Linked DNA regions of Homo sapiens. The protein of the gene in region 1 interacts with the protein of each later gene in a biochemical or structural test. Each region holds a gene or a part of one and is shown in the gene's direction. Other genes may lie near its edges. The genes, in order: SYNJ2BP, CSPG4, HDAC7, GNG4, KCNJ12, SLC34A1 and SLC17A1.

Region 1 (3,046 bases):
TATTCTTATAACAGCCAACTATGGTGAGTTATTATAAGGTAAATTGCCATAATCCAGCGCTGCTCACATCTAAAAAACTTTGAGGTGTAAAGGTAAATCGTACCAATCTCTGGGCTGCCCTAGTGACTTTTTTGATACCTCAGAGTCCTATTGAAGAACCAGGTGGAATGATTGTGGTAAGGGCTATAGTGCTGGAGCCAAACACCCCAGCAAGAAAACTCTAAAAGGACAAAAGATAAGGTAGTGCCTCCAAGGTGGCACCTGAACCCTCTCAGGCTACTTTTTGGTTTCTACTAACAAACCTGAGGGAAGGAACTGCCTCCCTGGCAGGATGGGCATCAAATCAACTCTGGCTTCAGATTTAGTTAAAATGAGGCCGGGTGCAGCGGCTCACACCTGTCATCTCAGCACTTTGGGAGGCCGAGGCAGGCAGATCACAAGGTCAGGAGTTCAAGACCAGCCTGGCCAACATGGTGAAACCCCATGTCTACTGAAAATACAAAAATTACCTGGACATGGTGGCGCGTTCCTGTAATTCCAGCTACTCAGGAGGCTGAGGCAGGAGAACTGTTTGAACCAGGACCTGGGAGACGGAGGTTGCAGTGAGCCAAGATCACGCCACTGCACTCCAGCCTGGGCTACAGAGCAAGACTCCATCTCAAAAAAAGAAAGGCATGGATTGCTAGTATTTTTGAAAGGCTTTATACACTACATACGGCTTTTAATAAACCTTTTTGCAGCAAGAGGGAGGAAAAGAGTTTTGTTTGCTTTAGGAGGTAGGGAAATGTGGTAGGTGTTTCATGCGGCCTAGGAGGAGGATATGAATGAATGGATACTATGGAATGCCAGTGATCTCGATAAGGTGGGAACCATCCTGTTCATGTTCTTTTAAGGCTGGTTTTAAGCACTATGGGTAGCTGAATTTTCTGGCTTTAAGAAAATCATTTCCATTAGCCAAATATATTGGCCATACTATAGGCCTTTTATAATTTTGTTAGCAAGATTATCAGGACTCAGGCAATCAACTGTATTTCATTTCTAGCTTGGACAGTCTGGTAATTAAATGTTGATTGGACATCAGCTTTGTCAAGACACTTTTACAAAGAAGTACAGTGCATATCCTCCATCCCATAGGGCTTTTGGGTTCCAACTGCGAAGACAACACTCTTATTGGCCACATAGGTAGGACAGTGTAAGTAGGGGTCATGTTTATATTACAGACAGCAAAAGAGAAAAGTTACTGAGAACTGGGGCGTTTGAGAAAGTTACGTGGAGGAAAGGGACAAGTTGAAGACCCTTAAGGGCCTCACAGCCTAGTTAAGAGAATTCATAAACAGGTGAGAAGTTAAAAGTATATCAGCAGGCTAAGTATTGAAAACAATATTAAAGGGGTACCATGCAAAACACGATGCAGCAACAAAGAAGATATGCAGGTAATCATCACATTTTCTTTTAGAAATTCAGGGAAAAAAAGATGTCACATAATGGCATCAGGCTCAATTGGAAAGGGAAGGCTTTTGAAAATAAGAGGTCCGGTAAGACCTTGCCTCTGGGTCACTACTGGTATAGGGAGAAACTTGCTTTAAACAGTCCTGACATAAAGTGCCTTTTGACATCAACTATTCAATACCTTTGAGACTCACTTAGACAACTGGACTCATTGTAGGTTCCACAGAAAAACACGGACAACATTCTAGTTGTCACTCCAACCAGCCACACTAGGAGGGCACAGCCTCTGGTACCCTTTCTGTTCCTGAAGGCATGTACAGCGGCTTCTACAGCAAGCTTGCTTACCTCCCAGGATTCACCTCATGGTTTGGACACTGATTCCTGAGAGAGCCTTGAGACACACAAAGTGAAAAAAATGTCAAGCAGGAATGAAAGCTCTAGTTTTTTGCTTGTTGGTATATGTAAATTTGTTTAAAAAGTATCCATTCTGTCGTTGGTAGAAGTTTTGCTTTGGTTGATAATAGAGATTCTGATGTACTCTTATAACTTAGGTTTTCTCAGAAATTAAGTAGCATTGAAGATCAATGTAATACAGTTTTAAGCAGGTACACTAATTATATTATTGATTCTATAGAAAACTAAAATTATAGATGAGGTATCAGGATCCATTATAGGTTGTAAAAAAATTCATGTTCTTCATAGATTGAGTCTAATATTTCTTCTATAGATTGCATCTAATGTTCCTACTACCTAAATTATTACGTTCAAAGTTTTGAAAATTGAACGAAGGTATTTTTAAGTACTTAAAACATTTCTCTATCATTCTGTATTACATGTATAATTATAAGATATTGTTTGCTTCAACTAGCTGTACTTTGTTTTCCTGTGAAGTTTCAACTTATGTGTTATCGATTTAACTTAATTGTTCCATCTAGCCATGTATAATGGAAAAAGGAAGTTAATATTTGTTATTGTGTTCTATGCCAGGGACTGTACCAAACTCTGATTGGTACATTATTTCATGTCTCATAACTCTGGGATCTAAGTATTGTCACAAAGAGACTAAAAATGAGAGAAAAAATTACTTGACTAGGATTATGTAGGTGGTAATAATAGAATCAGGATTTAAACTCAGGACTTCAGATGCCAGCATCAATGATATTCTCTCACTGGAAGTGGTTCTCAAAGCAAGGTCCTGACAAAAGCATCAGCGTTACTGGGGAACTTGTTAGAAAAGCAAGTTCATAGGCTGGGCATGGTGGCTCATGCCTGTAATCCCAGCACTCTAGGAGGCCTAGGCAGGTGGGTCACTTGAGCTCAGGAGTTTTGAGACCAGCCTGCACAATGTGGTGAAACCCTGTCTTTACTAAAAGTCAAACAAATTAGTGGTGCATTCCTGTAGGCCCAGCTACACGGGAGGATTGCTTGAGCCCAGGAGACTGAGGTGCAGTGAGCCGTGATTGCTCCACTTCATTCTAGCCTGAGCAACGGAGTGAGACCTTGTCTCAAAAACAAAAAAACAAACAAACAAAAAACAAAAAGCAAGTTCCCAGAAGAGAAAAAAGAAGTTCCAGACCTAGTGAATCAAAAACTCTGA
Region 2 (3,500 bases), on another chromosome or scaffold:
CCTGCCCCGAGCCAGCAGCCCCAGGGAAAACCCCCAAAATCAGGACACAGTGCCTCGTTCCCCCGCCAGGGCAGGCCCTCTGGCCTGGGCCAGTCCACTCTCTGGGGAGACAGAGGGGGCTGGGGAGAGGAGACGAACTTCCGTTCCCACCTAAGAGCAGCCCCTTCCCCCACCCACATTTCAGGAAGGGGCAGCTATAAATACCAGTGGGACCAGGACACTGATTCCCACGACACCCGCTTCTCCCTGCCCCTTCCCTGTGCACAGTTGCTGGGGCCAGACCAGCTCTCCTGCAGCTAGAGTCCAGCCAGGCAGGCCTGAGGCCTAGCCACACACACACAGAGACACAGACATACGCACACAGGCACACACAGACATAGATACACACAGACATACAGACACAGACACATGCACACAGACACACATACGCACACACACACGCACACAGACATATACACACAGGCACAGACACACACATATGCACACAGACACATACAGACACAGATACACACACACACTTTTACTTCCCACCCTGGTCAAGGAGGAGCAAATCACCCTTTTTGGGAGTCTGCGAGCAGCTGAGAGGGAGCCCCTCCCCTGCCCCTCAGCCCTGACCCAGGCCCCATCTCTCCCTCCTCTGAGTCCTGAGCTGTGGGAACCCACACAGGGAAGCAGGAGGCCAGGCACATGGTGGTGAAACACGGCATTAGAGAGCTCAGGTTGAATTCCAGCCCTGACGCTCTATGCATGACCTTGGGCAAGTGACTCTGTCTTTCTGAGCCTCAGTTTTCTCCTCTCTAAAATGGGGATAAATAATTCCAACCTCTTACGTGTTGTAAGGATTAAGCAAGACACTTTGCCTGGAATCAATGCTCGGTGGACATCTGCTCCTGAAGCTGCAGTCACTCTGCTATTAGCATCTTCTTCCCAGGGTGGAGTGGCCCGGCAACATGGGGACTTCTGCTTAGGAGTGTTTAAGGAAGATTCCGAGGCAAAGGCCTAGAGGAGGTGGCCCCGTGAGTCTGTGTGGGACTAAGTGACATGGAAAAGGAGAGGTGGGCTCTGGAGAGGGTATCAGCCAGCGGCTGCCTGCCAGCCCAGGACCCTTCAGAAGGTGGGAGGGGGTGGGGGTCTGCATCTCTGTGGCTAACTGGGCTGAGGCCCACACCCCTCTCTCAGTGCTAGAAGAAGTGGGGACAGCCCCTGCCTGGCCCTCCCCAGGGCCTGTTTCTCCCAAGCCTAACAGCCCCTAGGATGGGGCTCACTGGGCCGGGGCACAGCAGGAACCCCCTGTCCCCAGAGCAGGTGAGTGAGGAGAAGAGAATGAGCAGGCCCCAAGACCTTTTATGGGACGGGGACCCTAGAAGCCTGTCTTTTCCCTGCTCTCTACCAACCCCTCGCGAGTCCCTCTCTGGAGGTGGGGGCTGGAGGCCAGGGCCCAGGGACGTGGGACAGCTCACCTGCCAGAGTCACCATGGGGCTGTTACCACCACTCATGATATAAGCAGTGGTGGCTGCATCACGAGGAGCAGAAATCCGGACTGAGGGAGGGGACAGCCCTCTCCGCTCTGGGCTGCTAGGACCCCTCAGTGGTATGGGTGTATGTGAGCTCAGAGTAGGGGGAGGTGTGGGGAGGTGACTGAGGTGACTGCAGAGTGGGGTGCACAGCTCGGGGCAGGGACACTGGAGGGACCCCGGACAAGGGCAGGCCTGTGCCTGAGCCCTCAGGGCAAGATCCCATTGTGCAGGCCCCCACTGCCTTCACCCACGTAGAGGTGACTCTTCTCCACAGACCCCTGGACAGGGCCCGGCCAGGCCCCCCACCCACATGTTTTAATGGAATCCAGGTGGCTGCCCCTGGCCAAGGTTCCATCTCTGGGCATCTGGGGCCCGTGTGCTTCTGGCCACCCATCTGGAGCCTGGCTGAGCCCCTCCAGGGGTGGGTACTCAGACGGGGGCTGTCCCTCCAACCGTGGACAGCCCTGGGGCCAGCGAGATATTGTAGAGGCCTGAGCCAGCTGGCTGATGGTGCCACAGCCCTTGGGCTACCTGGCCCTGCTATGTGGCCTTGGGGAGACCCCTGGCCCTATCTGGGCCTCTGGGTGGAATCTTCAGTCTCCTAGGTCAGCTCTAAATTCTGAGCTTGAGCCTCTTGGGAACAGGACAGGGGCCTCTGCCTCTATCTAGAGAGAGCCAGCTGCTTGTCCTGGGCCAAGCAGCAAGGCAGGCTAGGCCTGGAATGGGGCTGAGAAGCAGCCCAGCCTGCCAGGACTCCCTGGCATTGGAAAGCCACTTTCCTAAGTTGGCATGGAGCCCTGGGGCTCCCCCCGGGATGAGAGCAGCGGCTCCTCTCCACCCCCGGCTCCCATCTTCCACCCCCTGGCCCCAGCCCCGCCCTGCCAAAAATAAACCCAGACCACCCCATCTTGTACCAGCCAGACCCACCCAGCCCCTCCAGAGCCAATTGAGTCACCACTCAGAGCTGCTCCTTTTTTAACTGTCTGAGTCACTGCTTGTGGCTCCATGACACATGCCCCAGGCTACGGTTACCCCACAGCCCCTACAAGCGCAGCCAAGGGAGGGGTCTGCGTAGAGGCTGGCAGCAGGTGTGAGTCCAGGCCATAGCCTTAGCTTGTGAGCCCTCCAGGCCTAGGGAACTCACTCCATAACAAGCCAGAGACCAGACCTGTCCCTCAAGGTCCCGGCCGTGCCCAAGACAGCCCTTGGGGATCTTGGTGACAAGGTCAATCTGGGCTCTGCCCCACCGCATTGCGTTGCCTCCAACAGGCCTGGGCCTTCCCCGTGGAGACTGCCGGGAACGGAGGGTCTCCAGCCCCTAGACCCTGGAGGCTGGGGGTGGGCGAGGCCACAGAGACGCCTGCTTCCTCCCTCCTCACCGGCTCCACCCGGACTCTGACCACGCTGCCTGGAGCACCATGAAGACTCTATGGGACGGAAGCCACACTTCAGTCTCCCCTCACGGCTTCTGTCTGCCCCTGCGCAGGGTCACCCGGGCTGCAGAGCACCCCCGATCTCTCAGTCCATCCCCCCATCCCGCTCTCTCCATCTCTCTGTCCTTTCCCACCCCTGGCTGTGGTTCCTCCATCTCTTTCTGTCTGTCTTTCCTACCCTGTCTCTCTGTCTGTCTGCCCATCTCTCCAGTCCTGCTCTGTTCTCCTTCCCTTCTCCTTTACCGGGTTCCACGGCAGTCAGAAGTGCTCCCTGCCGCCAGCACCCCACCCGTCCCCAGGGCCCTCTCTGCCTTCTCAGTAGACATAACAGACCCTCACCTCCTCCCATTCCCACAAGGGACTCTGGGCCCCAGGGACCAATCCTGAGAAATGTTCCGCTCCCCTCACCAGGTCCTCCCGTGCCCCAAAGTGCAGGCTACATCCTGTCCCAGGGAGTGTCAGGATCCCACAGGCACTTCCTTGGGGGTTGACAAAGGCGGGCAGGGGGGCCTGGGAATGGCCCCACCTCCCAGTCCATGCTAGAGCAGG
Region 3 (3,500 bases), on another chromosome or scaffold:
CAGGAGGAGCAGGGCAGTCTGGGAGTGACAGGTTCGGAAAGAGTCTGGGGTGGGGGAATTCGGCGATTGGGCTGTAACCGTCTTGTTTTGCTTGCCCCACAAACCTGCACGTCCGGGACGTCCGCTGCGCCCTCCCAGGCGCGTTCAGGTTATAGAACTGCTCTCAGAATGACAGGCTGGTGGCACCCGGCTGGGGCGGGGGGTGGGGAGGTGAAGGGGGGAGCCCCAGGCAAGGGGGAGCTGGAGGGTTAAAAATAGCAGCAGCCTTGTTTCGGTTAGCAAATGTGGAGGCGGGGAGCTGGAGGCGGGGCGGGCGGCGGACGATGTTTGCCCGCAGCGCAGGGCTGTGCTTCCCCTGGGTCCCGGGAGTGAGTCACGGCGGAGACGCTGAGGAGGTGCTGGCGCAGCACCCCACCCCCACCGGGCGAGGGGCTGAGCGCAGGCCTCGCCCCCCAGATTCCAGCGCTGAAGGAGGTGTGACTCTCCCTTCCAGGCAGCCGGGGCCGCCTTGAGAGTGAGCCAGGGGCATCGTGTGATAATAGGGAAGAAATGTGCCATTCTGACGCCAGAGATCTGGGTTTGAATCTTAGTCGAAAGGTGTGGGATCTTGAGTAAGGATGCTGATGGCTCTGAGACTCGATTTCCTAGTTTCAAGTGGGGCTTTTCTCTGTGCCCCACTTAGTGCTTAAAGCACTCTACAGATGTTAATTATCGCCTTAGACCCTACTGTATATATGGCAAAGCCTGGCAGGAGAGCTTCCTGTAAGGACGCAGAGGGAGGAATGGGATGGCCTTGGCTGAGTCTCGGTTTCTCCTGCAAGTGTGATTATGGGCACATTTTGCTCTGTGCCTCCACTTCTTCATCTGTAATGTGAAAATAATTACAGTTTCAACTTTATGGAGTTGCTATGAAGATTAAAGGAGATAATGTAAATAAAGTTAGCTCTGTGCCTGGTATGAAGTCAGGGCTCACTGAATATTCATCATCATTATTAATGTTATTGTTCATATTTTTTGAAGGTCAGGGATAGGGAATGTTGCAGACACGAAGAACAGAAACTGGGCCTAGCCCCAGTTCACAGAAAAAACCAGGCCAAATCCCTGTTCCAGATTCCTCCACCCATCGCGGCCTGGAACAGCCAGAGAGCTGTAGCCAGAAGTCATAGGGTGGACCCCTGCTTCTCTTGTTCACTCCCTCTCCCAGCCTCTCCCAGTGAGGCAGGGCGAGGAGGGACCCCAGGGCCTTGAAGCCAGCTGGCCCTGGAGAGGGGCTGCTGTGCCAGCTTGGGGAGGGTCTGGGATGGGGCTGCCCCTGATGGCCCTGATGTGGAGTACCTTGCCAGCATCTGCTGGGGTGAACTTTATTTTAGCCCTTCCCTTGTTGCTCTTATGAAGAACAGAGGAGGGGTGGGCAGGTCAGTGATGTCAGCAGTGAGTATTCCCAGCACAGCGGCTCTGGAAGAGGCATGAGGCATTTCTTTCAGGAAATGATCATTATTCAGCCAGAAGGCATTCATTAAGTAAGTCCTGACTTTGTGCCCAGCTCTGTGTTATAGGCCCTTGGCGAGACTCAGGAGGGGCAGAGGACGCTAGGTTGTAGATAACACGGAACCTCAGAGGATATATGGTCCAAGAAGACCCGGGGGCGGTGAAAACCCTGTGGACTAATGCTCACGGGAGCCCGAGGTCACACTTTGACTTTGCTACCATGGGCTGTGTCTATGTACGTATATATGCTGCGTAATTATTACAGAGGCAGTCCATGTGCATTGTGGATACTCAGACAGGACAGACCAGCAAAAACTAAAAAATAAAAAACATCACAGACGCATCAGTCAGAGATCACTGCACATCTTTCCATTTCCGTATGTGTCTTTATGTGTTGTAATTTTTATGAAAATGAGATTACTCTGCATATACTGTTTTTTCAGTCAGTGATTTCCACCTTCCATTACAGTAAATTTTCATCTTAACGGAATTCCCAGTTGGCCAGAAATTGTCCTTACAGCTGGTTTGTCCAAATCAGTACCCAGGACCATGCCATCTGTCTGTTGAGTGACCTGAAGGCAGTGTAAGCACCCTAGCTGGATTTGTGATCTGGAAAAACCCCTTCAACCAAGTCTCAAGGGCAGCCTGGCTGCAAAAGGGAATCAGGTCACGTGGAGAATCTGCCCACTAGACTTCTGCTGTCTTCCAAAGTAATAGGCAAAAGGAGGGGGATTCTAGGGCACCACTGGGATGGGACCTCTAGGGTATTTACTGTCATTAATGTTAATGTGGCATCCCTGTGAGTGTCAGGATTCACAGCTTGTGGCTATTCACATCCGAGATGCCTCAGTTCGGTTTGCCTGGTTCTTACTGAGTGCAGACCAGGGTCTCCATTGTGGCTTCTGCCTTCCTCTGCCCCAGATCCAGGGATGCTGATAGCCGTGCGGCTGTGTTCCTAGTCCCCAGAAAGTGGCCCTGAAGGTAGGTGCTCCCTTTTGCACTTGTGGGTGCTTCCAGCGCTTCCACCTGCCCAAGGCCTGCCCGTGAGTGAGAGACAGAGATAGAGATAGAGAGAGAGAGAGAGAGAGAGAGAGAGAGAGAGAGAGAGAGACCTTTTCCTCCCAAGAGAATTTACCCCCGAGTACCCACTCTGAGGGTGACTTGCTCTGGTTATGCAACCCGCATTTTGTAGAGGGCTTGACAGTTTCCAGAGAGCTCACGCAGCGTTTGATCCTCTGTGGCAGCCCTGGGAGGTTTGCTTGTTTAGTTATACCCTGCTGGAGGCAGCTAACAGGAAACACTGTAAAGTGTTTAAATGGTACACTTTAAAATGGTAAAATGTACATTTAAAAAGGAAGGGAAATAGAAGATGAAAAAGGAATTGAGGATGGCAGGGGTGGAACACAGCACACTTTGTGGGAACAGGCTGGCATTGGGAGCATACCCTAGGGCCTCACTGTGTCTTGCATCCCCTTGTCCCCTTGGTGGTCTCACCTCAGCCACTACTAGGAGGCAGGCTGAGTAAGCAGTCCACGCCAGTGTACCGATGCTAAGCTTAGGTTCTGGAGTCCCAGCAGCTCCACATACCATCTGTGTGACCTCAGCAAGTTTCTGAACCTCTCTTAGCCTTAGTTTCCTCATTTGCAAAATGAGAATAATAACAGTATATAGGCCGGGCGCAGTGGTTCACGCCTGTAATCCCAGCACTTTGGGAGGCCAGGGTGGGTGGATTCAGTGAGTTCAGGAGTTTGAGACCAGCCTGGCCAACATAGTGAAACACCGTCTCTACCAAAATACAAAAATTAGCTGGGCATGGTGGCTTGCACCTGTAATCCCAGCTACTTGGGAGGCTGAGGCAGGAGAATCACTTGAATCCGGGAGGCAGAGGTTGCAGTCAGCTGAGATTGTGCCACTGCACTCCAGTCTGGGTGACAGAGTGAAATTCTGTCTCAAAAACAAAACAAAACAAACAAACAAAAAAACAGTATCTGCCTTACAGAGTTGTGAGGACT
Region 4 (3,500 bases), on another chromosome or scaffold:
CTGCAAAGGGGCCTTTAACTGAGCACCTGTGCTCTGTGCCCTCACAGGTCTCCCAGGCAGCTGCGGACCTCCTGGCCTACTGTGAAGCTCACGTGCGGGAAGATCCTCTCATCATTCCAGTGCCTGCATCAGAAAACCCCTTTCGCGAGAAGAAGTTCTTTTGTACCATTCTCTAACTCCGTGTGTGATGAAAACGCCTCCTTTTCTGACCTTCAAAGTCCCCTGTAGAGACCATGCATGCTCTAAGCCTTAGGGAGTGAGACCAACACCCATCCCTGCCCAGCCAACAGTGGCCGGGGCTTGTCTTATGTTTCCATCTGTTTTCTTCGTGGCATTCAATTTCATTTTTTTCCTTTTCATTTTCATGTTATTTTCATTATTGGCAAAGAAAATCAAAATGTTTATAGCCAAATAACAAATGTGCCATGTAAAAGTAAGTCTGGACTTAAGAGTTTAAAATTTTTAAACATCAGTTTCCAAGTTTATATCATATTAATACATTTCAGTGGATAATTTATTTTAAAAAAAAAACTATGCCTAAATATCCCTTATTTGCAATATTCAGTATCAAATTAGAGCATTTTGACCAACTGAAACATATAACGTTTTCATCTCCTTTCCTGGAGAAAGCAGCTGCAGAGGTTCTGTATTTCCTGCATTTCCATCATCCTAGTAAAAAGACAACAACCCACAGGATTGGAATGGTTTTCTTTTGTTTTTTTTTTGTTGTTGTTGTTGTTTTGAGATGGAGTCTCGCTCTGTCACCCAGGCTGGAGTGCAATGGCGTGACCTCAGCTCACTGCGACCTCCACCTCCTGGGTTCAAGCGATTCTCCTGCCTCAGCCTCCTGAGTAGCTGGGATCATAGGCACGCGCCACCACACCCAGCTAATTTTTTGTATTTTTAGTAAAGACGGGGTTTCACCATGTTGGTCAGGCTGGTCTCAAACTCCTGACCTCGTGATCCACCCGCCTCGGCCTCCCAAAGCGCTGGGATTACAGGCGTGAGCCACCACACCCGGCCGTGGAATGGTTTTCTTAGCATATCCTCCTGGGGCCGTGGCGCCCCGGCTGTGGGCCGTGGTGGATGTCCCTTGTTTCAGTGGTCCTACAAAGGTAGATGGTGGGCGGACACCGAAGTCAACTTGACTGTAAAAGTACCCCATACCGTTGACGCGCTGTGGCAGACCTGTGGGTGCGGTCTCCCCTCTCCAAATGCCACCTCTTCCTGCTCCCTCCTCTTTTGGCTCCTACTCAGTAGTTCCATTGTGGGCTGCAGTAATATAAGGACCTGTTCTGGACACAGCACTGGGCCCGCTGGGGTTTTAGTAGGGCAGCCCCTTCCCTGCAGGAGTGAGGCATGGTGACAGCAGTCCCCTATGTGCCCCCAAGTCATCTGAGCATTGGTGTGCATTAAGGTACTCAATCTTCCAACAATAAATACCATAAGTGCATGTCTGTTTTATTTTATTTATTTATCTTTTTGAGACAGAGTCTTGCTCTGTCGCCCGGGCTGGAATGCAATGGCACAATCTCAGCTCACCGCAACCTCCACTCGCAGGTTCAAGTGATCCTCATGTCTCAGCCTCCCTAGTAGCTGGGATGACAAGCACACGCCAACATGCCTGGCTCATTTTTGTATTTTTAGTAGAGACGGGGTTTCACCATGTCGGCCAGGCTGGTCTCCAACTACTGGCCTCGAGTGATCTGCCCACCTTGGCCTCCCAAAGTGCTGGGATTGCAGGTGTGAGCCAGTGCACCCGGCCGTATGTCTTAGAGTGAGGGGAAACTGAGGCACAAAGCGTTTATGTAGTTTGCCCAAGGTTACACATGGTAAGCAGAAAAACTGGGATTTGAGGGCAGGCAGCCCGGCCCCAGAGTTCCCTTAGCCCCCTGAACTGTGCTACCTTCCAGGTCTACCTGTTTGCAGGTAGGGAGACCCACAAACTATCATAACTGCACACCGTGAAGCAAACACCTTTGTTGCAGTAACCCGTGGCACACTTCACTTCCCACATTCTCCAGGAGGAAGCCGTATTCTGGTAGTTTAAGGAAGGTGATTCATGGATGCCCCAAGGAAAGGCTAGACATCGATGAATTAGCTCTTGGATTGTCTAAGATCAACCTGAAGGTCCTACCTAAACCAAACTCATATGATCCCGATGAAAGAGGAGAATACACAGTGGGAGCAGAGCTCTTTGTGTAAGTTTGTTCTATTCTGTTTATTTGGAAACTGCCTCTCTCCCTAGTTCTGAAAGAGACTTGCTGTGTGATAGAGAACAGGCCATTTGTGCCTGAAATGTTCTAACCTGCAAATTGGGTTTAATGGTAATTATCCTGCCTTTCTGTCTGGGAGGAAACAGAGATGCTACATAGATGAAAGCTCTGATTATCATTTAAAACAAATAAATGTACTAAATGCCGTGGTATAATATAGGGAAGAATGGATGACTTCAAAGAGACCATGGTTCCGTTGGAGGCATAAAATTGCCTGCAAAGAGGCAAATGTAATTTCCAGACCAATTAATGACTTGCTGCCCTCGTAAATGGATTTAGGACATCTTTGTTCCTTGCTTCTTTTGTTAAAACTCATTCTTAGTTTCATTATCAGCTCACTAATAATACCAGTGTTGTTAAGATGCTCAAACTAGAGCAGAATTGTATGCTGGATGTGACGCTAGGACCTCAGATCCTTTGATAGTGCAGTTATGACCAGGATCTCTTTATTCTGTGCTTCACGTCAACATCATTAACCCGATGAAGCGAAGCACAAGTCATAAAGGCACATCAGAGAAGCCGAGAAAGCGGGGCCGTACAGAGAGCATCAAAATCAGGTCAGAAAAATGCTGCTTTCCTCTTCCACCAAACCTTCTCCCTGTTGTTTTTACATGCCCCGTCCCTCCAGATTCAGCCTCCGTTTTGTTCTCTCTCCTTTTCCTTTTCCTCCTCTCTTCCTTACCTTCCCCTGTGAGATGCTTTTCTGTCCTTTTACTGCACCTCTTCCAGACCTATGGCATTTGGGGACGGGTCACCCTTCCTAGAGTGATCCTGAATCCAGCTGCCTCTTCTTTTTTTGTTTTTGTTTTTGTTTTTGAGACAGAGTCTCTTTCTGTCGTCCAGGCTGGAGTGCAGTAGCGCAATCTTGGCTCACTGCAACCTCTGCCTCCTGGGTTCAAGCGATTCTTGTGCCTCAACCTCACGAGGAGCTGGGATTGCAGGCGCCCGCCACCACACCCGGCTAATTTTTGTATTTTTAGTAGAGACGGAGTTTCACCATGTTGGCCACGCTGGTCTTGAAGCCCAGACCTCAAGTGATCCGCCCGCCTTGGCCTCCCAAAGTGCTGGGATTACAGGCATGAGCCACCGCGCCTGGCCTAGTTCCCTCTTCTTAGATGGAGATTTCTGCACATGAGCTGTGAGATCCACAGACATGTCACTGAGCTCCCCCACTCTGTCAGTGGAAGATGAATGGAATAAAGCCTGCTTGCATTGTGGAGTGCA
Region 5 (3,500 bases), on another chromosome or scaffold:
CAGGGATACTTCTCAGCCCTCCCTGCCTCCACCCCAAGGGTGTACAGGAGGGTGCGACGTGACACCTCCACTGTGGGAGCGGGCAGCCTGAGGCCAGAGAGGGTCCCCACAGCCGGAGGTCACACAGTTCCCGGAGGAAGGCTGGGGCGCAGCCTTGAGGCCACAGACCCTCTGTCCCTGATGCTTCCAGGCAGCTTTTGGGGACTTGGCAGGGGAGGGGCCGGGGAGAAGGGAGCATGTGGAGACTGAGATGTGTATGATAGAGAGGATGAAAGGCCGGGGGCAGGAGAGGTCAAGGGGGATGGAGTGGCCTGGTGGCCGGAGGTGTGCCCTTGCCCCTGCCCGCCCCGCTTGCTCCAGCTGCAGCCGGGCCCGAGCTGGCGGCTCCAGGCCTGCAATTCTCCAGCACTTAAAGCAAAAATAAATCGCTGCCAGCAGCTGGCGTTCTGTGTGGCAGCAGCCGAGCCAACCCCGCCCCGACCCTCTGCCTCGGGGCTCCTGGTTCCGGGCCAAGCCAGGCTTCCATTCAGGGCTGGGGGGCGCCGAGGCCAGAGAGGGTCCAGGGGAGCTTGGCGTGGCCGGAGGGGGCGGGTCCTGGCATGATCACAGGGAGGGCAGAGGCAGATGGAGACCTGGGGCTTCCAGGGGTGCTGGGATCTGGGGCAGGTTGGGGATGCTCAAAAGTGGGGCTTCTGACAGTCTTGGGTCTTGTGGAAATAGGGCCTGGGAGGGGCAAACTCAGGGGTCACAGCCACCTGTTTGGCCCTGGGGATCCCCAATCACAAGCCACCCCCAGCCTGTCCCCTGGATGTCCCTTTCTTTCCATCCCCTCCTTTCCCTTCTCAGAGAATCCTAGAGGTCCTAGAGGTCAGGTATTTGCGTGGTGAGCTTTGAGGATGCAGGATTTTGGCCTCATTCCTGAGCTCAGCAGGTGGCTGGGGATGTGGCCTGCACAAGACCCCTGCCCTGGGGGGCTGACATCTCAGTGGGTGGGGCAGGATGAAATAGACAAAAAACACATGAGCCATCACGGGCATTGTCATATTTTGTTGAATATAACAGTTTTTAATTATAAGAGTGTTATGTGCTCACAGTAAAGTGATAAACAGTTGTAAGGGGAAAAGTGAATTTCTCCTCCTCACCCCCTGCCTCCCCCACCCCCAGAGTTTCTTGTCCTTGGGGTGACCATCATTAGAGAGGCTTCTGGGTTTCTCAGTGCTTATGCAGACGTGAATAAGTAAATGGAGGCATAGAAACGTGCTAATATCTAAGTTGCCTTTTTTTAAATTCGTATGGGACCATTGCATACATGTCATGGCGTCCCCTGCACTATGCGCACTGCTGTGTGGTGCCCGTGCCCACTGGACCCAGGGGGTCTCATCCTGTCGTCCTGGGCATGGATTGAGGGCTGAGTCTTGGGACTGTAGGATCTTTGTGGCATCTGAATGCACAGAGCCACCGAAGTCCGTGAGTCATGGGTTCTTTTCGTTGTCATTTTAGCTGCGTTGAGACAGAGATCCTGGATTGCAGGATTTGGTTTAAGTACCAGGAGAGGTACCGAGTCCTCGCCTGGGTGCCTCCTTCGTCACATCCCTCTGGGAGTTGGGATAATCCAGATCCCCTGCCTCCATCCCCAGAGCTCAGAGGGTCTGGGGGGCTTCAGAGTCGCAGCCTGGGGCTTTGGGACCTCTGGGTGAACCTGGCTCCCACTCAGGGCAGAGTAGACACGCTGGAGCTCGGAGGGGAGGCGCTCATTGCTGCTCCCACTGGGGTCCTTCTTCCTTTAGCCTCTCTTCTTCCCTTAGCCCTGACCTCCTAGAAACAGGATCACTTGTTCCCTCACTGTCTTCAGGCTGGGGCAGGCCTCTGTGTGGGGAATGTCACTTTGTTTTTTTTTTTGTTGTTGTTTGTTTGTTTTTTTTTTTTTTTGTTTTGAGACGGAGTCTCACTCTGTCGCCCAGGCTGGAGTGCAATGGCGCGATCTCAGCTCACTGCAATCTCCGCCTCCCGGGTTCACGCCATTCTCCTGCCTCAGCCTCCCGAGTAGCTGGGACTATAGGCACCCACCACCGCGCCCGGCTAATTTTTTTTTGTATTTTTAGTAGAGACGGGGTTTCACCGTGTTAGCCAGGATGGTCTCGATCTCCTGACCTCGTGATCCGCCCGCCTCAGCCTCCCAAAGTGCTGGGATTACAGGCGTGAGCCACCGTGCCCGACCCAGGAATGTCACTTTGACCTGTCTCCAAGCTTCCGCATCTCAGTGCCTGTCCCATCCTTGTCATTCCTTGGAACCTGGCCTGAGATGCATCAGGGTGGTCCCACCTTACTCCACCAGGGCCCCTTATTAGAAAGGATCTGCTACACTGATTGGGAGAGTGACTAGTCTGTGGTCACTCTCAGTATCTGTCTCAGTGTCTGTGGGGATCAGATATACCTGGTGCCCTTCTTTTATGAGCCTCACTTTCCATGTTTGTGAAATGGGGAGGCAGTCCATTCTCGTGTCTGGGCATCTGTTCTCTCCTTCCCTCTGGGCTTGGGCACTGCAGGCAAGACAGGGCAGCTTCCTGGCCTCCTTGATCCCTATTCTGCTGTGTGGCCGGAGGCTCGGCCCTGCCATCACCCCGGCCTGCTGGGCTGCAAGCTGTCAGCAGCACCTGCCCAGTCAGAGCGGCCAGGTCCCTCCCCAGGCCCTGGGAGCCTTGAAGACCACTGGAGGCAGTGCCCCAGGAGGTAGCCGTGGAGTGGCCCCGGCCCTCCCTGGGGGTTGTGTAACAGAGGAGACCCCGCTGCCCTCCTCTTTTCCTCTGCAGGGTGGAGGCTGGCCTGGGCCCTGCCAGCACAGCCTCCAGGCCACTCATGGGTCCTGGCCTCCATCCCACGGTAGATGCCCTGACTCTGCAGCACCAGGGCTCATGACCAGGCTCTTGGTGGCCTTAGGACCAGCTGCCGCTGGGTGGGGATGCCCCAGATCAAAGGCAGGTAATAGAGAGGAGACTGGGAGGACAGTGGGTGGGGAGCAGGAACCCTGGGAGCCTCAGTGTCCTCCCCTGTGAAATGGGAACACTAGAGAAAGTGGGTTGGGCAAACCCACACGCCTACCATTGCATCTGGGGTGTGGAAGGAGCACTGGGGCAGGAGTCTGGCAGCACCACCAACCAGGTCCAGTAAAGAAAGCCGAGGCAGGGATCAGAGGGCGGCAAGCCAGTGAGACCCTGTGTTGGTTTCCTGCTGCTGCCACCATAACAGACTGGGTGGCCTAAAACAGTACAAATGCAGCATCCGTTCTGGAGGCCAGACGTCTGAAACCGGTGTCTGCAGGGCTGGTTCCTCGCGGAGCCTCTGAGGGAGAAGCCATTCTGGGGCTTTCCCCCAACTTCTGGGGCTTCTGGCGGTCCTGGCATTCCTTGGCTTGTGGGCATCTCCAGTCTCTGCCTCTTGTCTTCACATGGTCTCCTCTCCCTGTGCTGCCTCTCCCTCTCCTCTCTCTCACTCTTTCTGTT
Region 6 (4,072 bases), on another chromosome or scaffold:
AATCTTTAGAAGTGGTGGCTGTGTAAATCAGCAGCATTTTGGAATTATATCTCTTGATGGATTTGATCGATAGCTAACTGCCTCCCCCACTAAACCCAGAGCTCCGTGACAGCAGGGAAGGCAAACTTCAAAAATATCAAAAAGCACAACCTTATTAAAAAGGAGAAACACCCCCAGTTCACCAGGAGCACCTTGGATTCAGCTGCTCCTGCCAAGGGTCTGAACTGCACGGGGGAATGGAGAGAAACAGGTCACGTGGGCCGGGGTCTCTGGGCCCGCTGTGGGGGTGTCAGTTTGCTCATAGGTGGAGACACTCGATGTGACATTAACAGCACCTTCAAGCCCAAGGACCCAGAGATTCTGACACAAGAACTGAGAACTGATTGCATTTCCGTGACTCAGCGACACCCTCCTACCTGGGCATGAACCCAGCCCTAGCCAAAGATCCAGAGACCCGACTCCCATCTATTTCCTTTTCCTCTCTCCCTCCCCGTCACCAATTCTACTGGTCAGATGTCCCTGGGATGCACCTGTCCTCCCCAGCCCCTCCGTTCCCATCGGAGTTCAGGCCTCATCATCTCCTGCCTGGACCATTAGCCTCTTAACTGGCCCCTCCGCTTCCAGGCTCCCTTCCATATATCCGGGTTCCACCCCGGGGGCCATTCTAAAAGGCAGATCAGGCCCATCCCAGTCTGGCCAGCGGCTCCACATTCACTCAGACTCACATCCTGGACCCATGGTCGGGCATTAGAGACCTGCCACGATTCAACATTCCACGGCCTTTCCAGCTTAGGTCCTCATCTCACACTCCCTCTCCTCTGAGCTCCCCCTGGGAGACTTACAGACACCCCGACGCTTGGCAAGGCCATAGGATGTTTTTGTTTGGTTTGGTTTGGTTTTTCTGAGACAGTCTCACTCTGTCACCCAGGCTGGAGTGCAGTGGCACGATCTTGGCTCACTGCAACCTCCGAAGGCCATAGGATGTTTGGGTCATTCCCTGGGGAGTCCTGTCAGGCCAGGAACGAGGGGACCCTGGGAACAAGGTGCTGAGTGGCATCAGGGTCTCTGCCTGCAGGCGGGGGATGTGTCTGGGTCGTGGTTGATGGGAAGAACCTGACCATAGATTCCCCATGCAGAGCTGACGATTAGCAATTAACTGGGAGGAATCTCAGGGGTGAGGTTAATTGGGGGACAGAGGGAGGGCAGCTAGGGTTCCAGGGACTTTGCCCTTGACCCAAGAGTATAAAGAGGAGGGTCTCAGTTCTCCTCAGGGTCCTGGAGGCTTCATTGAGCTGCTGAGCAGAAGCTGAAACACAGAATTCTAAGGTGAGCCCAGGACCCTCACATCCCAACCCCACCCCCAGCTCTGAGTAGGAAACAGCCCAGCACCCCAGCCCCTTCATCTGTGTCCTATCTGCGCCCACCCCCACCGCGCCCCATATAACATGTCAGTCCAGCCAATCGCGGTGGCTCCCACCTGTAATCCCAGCACTTTGGGAAGCCGAGTGGGCGGATCACCTGAGGTCGAGTTTGCACTAAAAATACAAAAAATTAGCCAGGTGTGGTGGCAGGCACCTGTAATCCCAGCTACTTGGGAGGCTGAGGCAGGAGAATCGCTTGAACCCACGAGGCAGAGGTTGCAGTGAGCCAAGATTGTGCCACTGCACTCCAGCCTGGGCGGTAAGAGTGAAACTCCATCTCAAAAAAAAAAAAAAAAAGGACTCCTGCTCCTTCAGGACTTGAATTCAACTCTTCACACCCCTACAACAGCCAAGGACGCTGGGACAATGCGGGGAGTGCTGAGGCAGATCAGGGCACTCCACCCCAATAGCCAAGACTCCTGGGGCAGTGCGGGGACAAGGGGGGGCTGAGGCAAGCCTGTCAGTGTTTGTTCATTGCCCCTTGAGGGGGTGGATGGGGAAAGGAATTCATTGTGAGGGGAACCCAGGAACTCGGGATCCGGCCCAGGGGATCTCCGTGTGTGCCCAGCTGACCCCATGAGAAGGCAGGTGTCTGCAGCTCCTCCTTGCTCTCCAGGTGGGCAAAACTGAAGCCCGGCCCAGCCCCAGCCCACACCTGCAGCCACTGCCAACACCACGTATTCCCTGGCCCCCTCCAGCCCCAAACAGGCTGGGCGTCCTCAGTTCTCAGTGTCTTTTATCAATGCTATATCCAAGCCTCTGGTTCGGAGCCTGGGCTAGAGCTCAATAATACTCATTGAATGAGTGAATGGTGAATGAATGATCACCTCACCACCACCACACACACCCCTCCGAGACTCACATGCAGGTGCCCAGCACAGATGTGCACATGTGAGTCTGCATGTGAGTCTCGGAGGGCTGTGGTGGTGATGATGGAGGGTGTGGTTTGCTGGGTGTGTGTTTGTGCGTGTGAGTCTCGGAGGGGTGTGTGTGTGTGGTGAGGATGGAGGGTGTGCTTTGCTAGGTGTGTATTTGGAATCATGCGCCATGGGGGTTTGTGCAGGTGAGGGTGTGTGGGCATGAGTGTCCCGGACACAGCTATTGTCATTCAGCGTTGCTGAGACCCACTGACCTGCAGACCTCATAGTGGGTGCCCAGGATGTTGTCCTACGGAGAGAGGCTGGGGTCCCCTGCTGTCTCCCCACTCCCAGTCCGTGGGGGGCATGTGATGCGAGGGACGGCCTTTGCCTACGTGCCCAGCCCTCAGGGTAAGTGCTGCTCCCACACCCTGGACCCTGGTTGCCCACGGTTGCCCACATCCCGGATGAGGCCACTTCCCCCGCCTGTTCCTCCCCGCCTCCCCACTTTGGGGCCCTGGGGCTCCTGACCAGGCTCCCTCCCTAGTCCTACACAGGATCCCGGGGACCTCTGCCTATGCCTTCCCCAGCCTGGGCCCTGTGGCCCTTGCTGAGCACACCTGCCCCTGTGGGGAGGTCCTGGAGCGCCATGAACCACTGCCTGCCAAGCTGGCCCTGGAGGAGGAGCAGAAGCCAGGTGGGCCTGGGCTGGGGGTGGCAGAGGCGGCAGCAGTCCCTGCCCTGGCCTCTGCCCACTATGCTCATGGCTTCCCCCATCCAGAGTCCAGGCTGGTCCCCAAGCTGCGCCAGGCTGGCGCCATGCTGCTCAAGGTGCCACTGATGCTCACCTTCCTCTACCTCTTCGTCTGCTCCCTGGACATGCTCAGCTCGGCCTTCCAGCTGGCTGGAGGTAGGGCCCGGGTGGAGGAGACCTGGGAGGGGTTCCTGAAGGGCCTTGGACAACGCTGGCTCATGCTCCCCAGGGAAGGTGGCTGGTGACATCTTCAAGGATAACGCCATCCTGTCCAACCCGGTGGCCGGGCTGGTGGTGGGGATCCTGGTGACCGTGCTGGTGCAGAGCTCCAGCACCTCCACATCCATCATCGTCAGCATGGTCTCCTCTGGCTGTGAGTTGGCCCACCAGGGTGGGGAAGAGCTTGGAGGGGCACCCCAGGAGCTGGGAAGGGTGGCAAATGGGGAGCGTGACCCCAGTAAGGCTGGCCTCCATTCAGCTTGACTCCTGTATCAGCCAGGGACATGAGAGGAGCCCAACTGTAGCTGTATGTGACCCAGATGATTTATGGCAAGGAACTGGCTTCCCCGATGGTAGTTTGTCTGGGCAAGTCAGGAATCCGTAGGCCAGGGCATTGGAAGGGCAGGCGGGAACTCTCAGGTGGGCGCCGACACTGCAGTCCAGACAGGGCAGCGTTTCTCCTTTCTCAGGGAAGCCTCAGTTCTGCTTGAGGCCTTTCATTCTATTGGATTAGGCTGACCCAGGTTACCAAGGATAATCTCCTTTTCTTAAAGTCAGCTGACTGTAGACGTGAATTGCATCTACAAAACACCTTACAGAACACCCAGGCTAGTGTTGGGTTGAATAACTGGGTACCACAGCCTAGCTAAGTTGACACATAAAACTAACCATCACTGGCCGGGCGCAGTGGCTCATGCCTGTAATCCCAGCACTTTGGGAGGCTGAGGGGGGCAGATCACGAGGTCAGTAGATCGAGACCACCCTGGCTAACACGGTGAAACCCTGTCTCTACTAAAAATACAAAAAAAAAAAACAACAAA
Region 7 (2,319 bases), on another chromosome or scaffold:
TTTATTTATTTCCTTGTTAAGCCCTCTTAGGTAGTAAAAAGTACTGTGGTCACTTTAAATAGCAAGCATACATTCCCAGTTAGATAACTGAAAATATTTATTTAAATATGGAATTTAGCTAGTCAAATGTCATACACATACAAGACTCCTTCCCTGTGTCTCCAGCTGGGACAAAGCTGCAGGCGGACCTTCTCCTTCAGGGAGAGGGGTGTGAGCACTTTCTTCTGTCTGGCTTTTCTCCTCATCCGCTAGGATGCTGACCCCACCTCTGACCCCTCCTGAGGTGTGACCAGGAGAGAAAGGAGGGGAAGCAGGCATGGAAATTTCTGGCTTGTTTGGCCCCATTGTCAGTTGCCCACATGCTCCCTGGGCCAGTAGGTGTTGAAAGCAGACCCTTTTCTTCATGCATAAGAGGCTGACAAGGCAGGAAATGCACTTGGTTTTTCCAGCTGCCCATCTCCTTGGCATCACAGATCCACTCCACACAAATCTCCCTTTGTGGATATCCCTTCTCCCTTCTAGGTGGTCCCTTGGGCCTGGCTATCAGTCCTCTGTGACCTGCATCTAATCCATGGGAAACACGCATGTAGCCTCTGGTCCAACAAAATGGAGAGGTCTTGTCCACTTCAAATGCAGTGGTCAGTGTCTTTCTGCCTTGTTCCTCGGGTGGAAAATCAGAGCCCCTCACTCCCAGATTCCTCAGGAAAGCCAACAGCTGACCCATGGGCCCACCCAAACACAGACTAGGCTCTAAGCAACCATTGATATAATTTGTCTATATTGATTTGCCTATTCTGTACATTTCATGTAAATGAAATTACATAATATGTCTGTGACTGACCTGTTTCACTTGACATGTTTTCAAAGTTCACTCATGTCGTAGCACGTAGCAATACTTCCTTCTTTTTTTGTGGCCCAGTAGTATTCGACTGTATGGCTATGCTACATTTTGTTTATACATTAATCCACTGAGGAGCATTTGAGTTGTTTACACCTTTTGGCTGCTGTGAATAGACCACTATGTGCATTTGTGTGTACAAGTTTTTATGTGAAGATATGTTTCAATTTTGTGGGGTATATACCTACAAGTGGAGTTGCTGGTCATGTGGTAATTCTAGGTTTAACGTTTTGAGGGACTGCCAAACTCTTCTCCACAGCATCAGACTATTTTACATTCTCACCAGCAATGTAGAATTCCAATTCTCCATATCCTCATCAACACTTGTTATGTTTCTTTTTTTTTCAGTAGCCATCTCAGTGAATGTGAAGTGGCATCTCATTATGGTTTTGATTTGCTTTTCTCTAATAAGTAATTATGTTGAACATCTTCTCATGTGCTTATTGGCTATTCTTCTGTTTTTTTACAGAAATATATATATTCAGTGTGTTTGCCCACATTTTAATTATTTGTCTTTTGATGTTGGGTTATAAGAGTGTATTGGATATTCTAAATACTAGACTGATAAGAATCAGATATGTGATTTGCAAATTGTTTCTCCCGTTTTATAGGTTGTCTTTTTTTACTTTCTTGTTAATGTCCTTTGATGCAAAGTTTGAAGCAAAGTTTTTGATTTTTATGAAGTCTAATTTATCTATTTTTTCTTTTATTGCTTGTGGCTTTGTTGTCATATAGAAGTAATCAATGCCAAGTCAAAGGTCATGAAGATGTACCCCTAAGTTTTCTTCTAAGAGTTGTATTGTTTTAGCTCTTACATTTAGGTCTTTGATTCATTTTGAGATGGTTTTTAAAAATAGTGTGAGGTAATAGTATTTTGTTATAGCAGCCTTAGCTAAGACAGCTTCTTTAATTTCTTTCTACAATATTTTGAAGTTTTCGAATATAAGTTTGTACTCTTTTTGTTAAACTTATTTATAAGTATTTTATTATTTTTTATGCTACTTGAAATTGAATTGTTTTCTTAGTTTCATTTTTGGATGGCTCATTGCAAGTGTATAGAAATATAATTGACTTTTGTATATTGATCTTGTGTCCTGCAGCTTTGCTAAACTCATTAGTTCTAATATTTTTAGTAGATTTCCTAGGATTTCTGTAAGCAAGATTATATCATTTGTAAGATATAGTTTTACTTCTGTTTTTCCAATCTAGTTTCCTTTTATTTATTTCCCTTGCCTAATTGCCCTGTATAGAACCCCTAGTATAATGTTGAGCAGAAGTGGCTAGAGTAGACATCTTTGTCTTGTTCGTGATCTTAGAGAGAAAACACATATTTTAAAATTCTTACAAAGCCTTTCTTCATCTACACTCTCTTGAGGCTTTAACTTTTATGTAACCTGAACTGTTTCAGAGCCGTATGACTC

What was found.
Region 2: the proteins of SYNJ2BP (region 1) and CSPG4 interact in a test that uses a peptide from one of them, tested with the Homo sapiens proteins (one large-scale study listed by IntAct).
Region 3: the proteins of SYNJ2BP (region 1) and HDAC7 interact in a test that uses a peptide from one of them, tested with the Homo sapiens proteins (one large-scale study listed by IntAct).
Region 4: the proteins of SYNJ2BP (region 1) and GNG4 interact in a test that uses a peptide from one of them, tested with the Homo sapiens proteins (one large-scale study listed by IntAct).
Region 5: the proteins of SYNJ2BP (region 1) and KCNJ12 interact in a test that uses a peptide from one of them, tested with the Homo sapiens proteins (one large-scale study listed by IntAct).
Region 6: the proteins of SYNJ2BP (region 1) and SLC34A1 interact in a test that uses a peptide from one of them, tested with the Homo sapiens proteins (one large-scale study listed by IntAct).
Region 7: the proteins of SYNJ2BP (region 1) and SLC17A1 interact in a test that uses a peptide from one of them, tested with the Homo sapiens proteins (one large-scale study listed by IntAct).

The regions. Positions count from the first base shown.
Region 1 is NC_000014.9:70,369,045-70,372,090, reverse strand, and holds part of SYNJ2BP (synaptojanin-2-binding protein), read left to right. Parts: 3' UTR 1-3,046. UniProt on the Homo sapiens protein: Regulates endocytosis of activin type 2 receptor kinases through the Ral/RALBP1-dependent pathway and may be involved in suppression of activin-induced signal transduction.
Region 2 is NC_000015.10:75,702,849-75,706,348, reverse strand, and holds part of CSPG4 (chondroitin sulfate proteoglycan 4 precursor), read left to right. Parts: intron 1-3,500. UniProt on the Homo sapiens protein: Proteoglycan playing a role in cell proliferation and migration which stimulates endothelial cells motility during microvascular morphogenesis. May also inhibit neurite outgrowth and growth cone collapse during axon regeneration.
Region 3 is NC_000012.12:47,809,904-47,813,403, reverse strand, and holds part of HDAC7 (histone deacetylase 7), read left to right. Parts: exon of another isoform or gene 1-323; coding exon of another isoform or gene 324-474; intron 475-2,450; exon of another isoform or gene 2,451-2,469; intron 2,470-3,500. UniProt on the Homo sapiens protein: Responsible for the deacetylation of lysine residues on the N-terminal part of the core histones (H2A, H2B, H3 and H4).
Region 4 is NC_000001.11:235,548,785-235,552,284, reverse strand, and holds part of GNG4 (guanine nucleotide-binding protein G(I)/G(S)/G(O) subunit gamma-4), read left to right. Parts: intron 1-47; coding exon 48-176; 3' UTR 177-3,500. UniProt on the Homo sapiens protein: Guanine nucleotide-binding proteins (G proteins) are involved as a modulator or transducer in various transmembrane signaling systems.
Region 5 is NC_000017.11:21,382,857-21,386,356, forward strand, and holds part of KCNJ12 (ATP-sensitive inward rectifier potassium channel 12), read left to right. Parts: intron 1-3,500. UniProt on the Homo sapiens protein: Inward rectifying potassium channel that probably participates in controlling the resting membrane potential in electrically excitable cells. Probably participates in establishing action potential waveform and excitability of neuronal and muscle tissues.
Region 6 is NC_000005.10:177,383,162-177,387,233, forward strand, and holds the start of SLC34A1 (sodium-dependent phosphate transport protein 2A), read left to right. Parts: upstream 1-1,272; 5' UTR 1,273-1,326; intron 1,327-2,533; 5' UTR 2,534-2,580; coding exon 2,581-2,689; intron 2,690-2,825; coding exon 2,826-2,975; intron 2,976-3,059; coding exon 3,060-3,188; intron 3,189-3,261; coding exon 3,262-3,405; intron 3,406-4,072.
Region 7 is NC_000006.12:25,784,734-25,787,052, reverse strand, and holds part of SLC17A1 (sodium-dependent phosphate transport protein 1), read left to right. Parts: intron 1-2,319. UniProt on the Homo sapiens protein: Important for the resorption of phosphate by the kidney. May be involved in actively transporting phosphate into cells via Na(+) cotransport in the renal brush border membrane. Plays a role in urate transport in the kidney.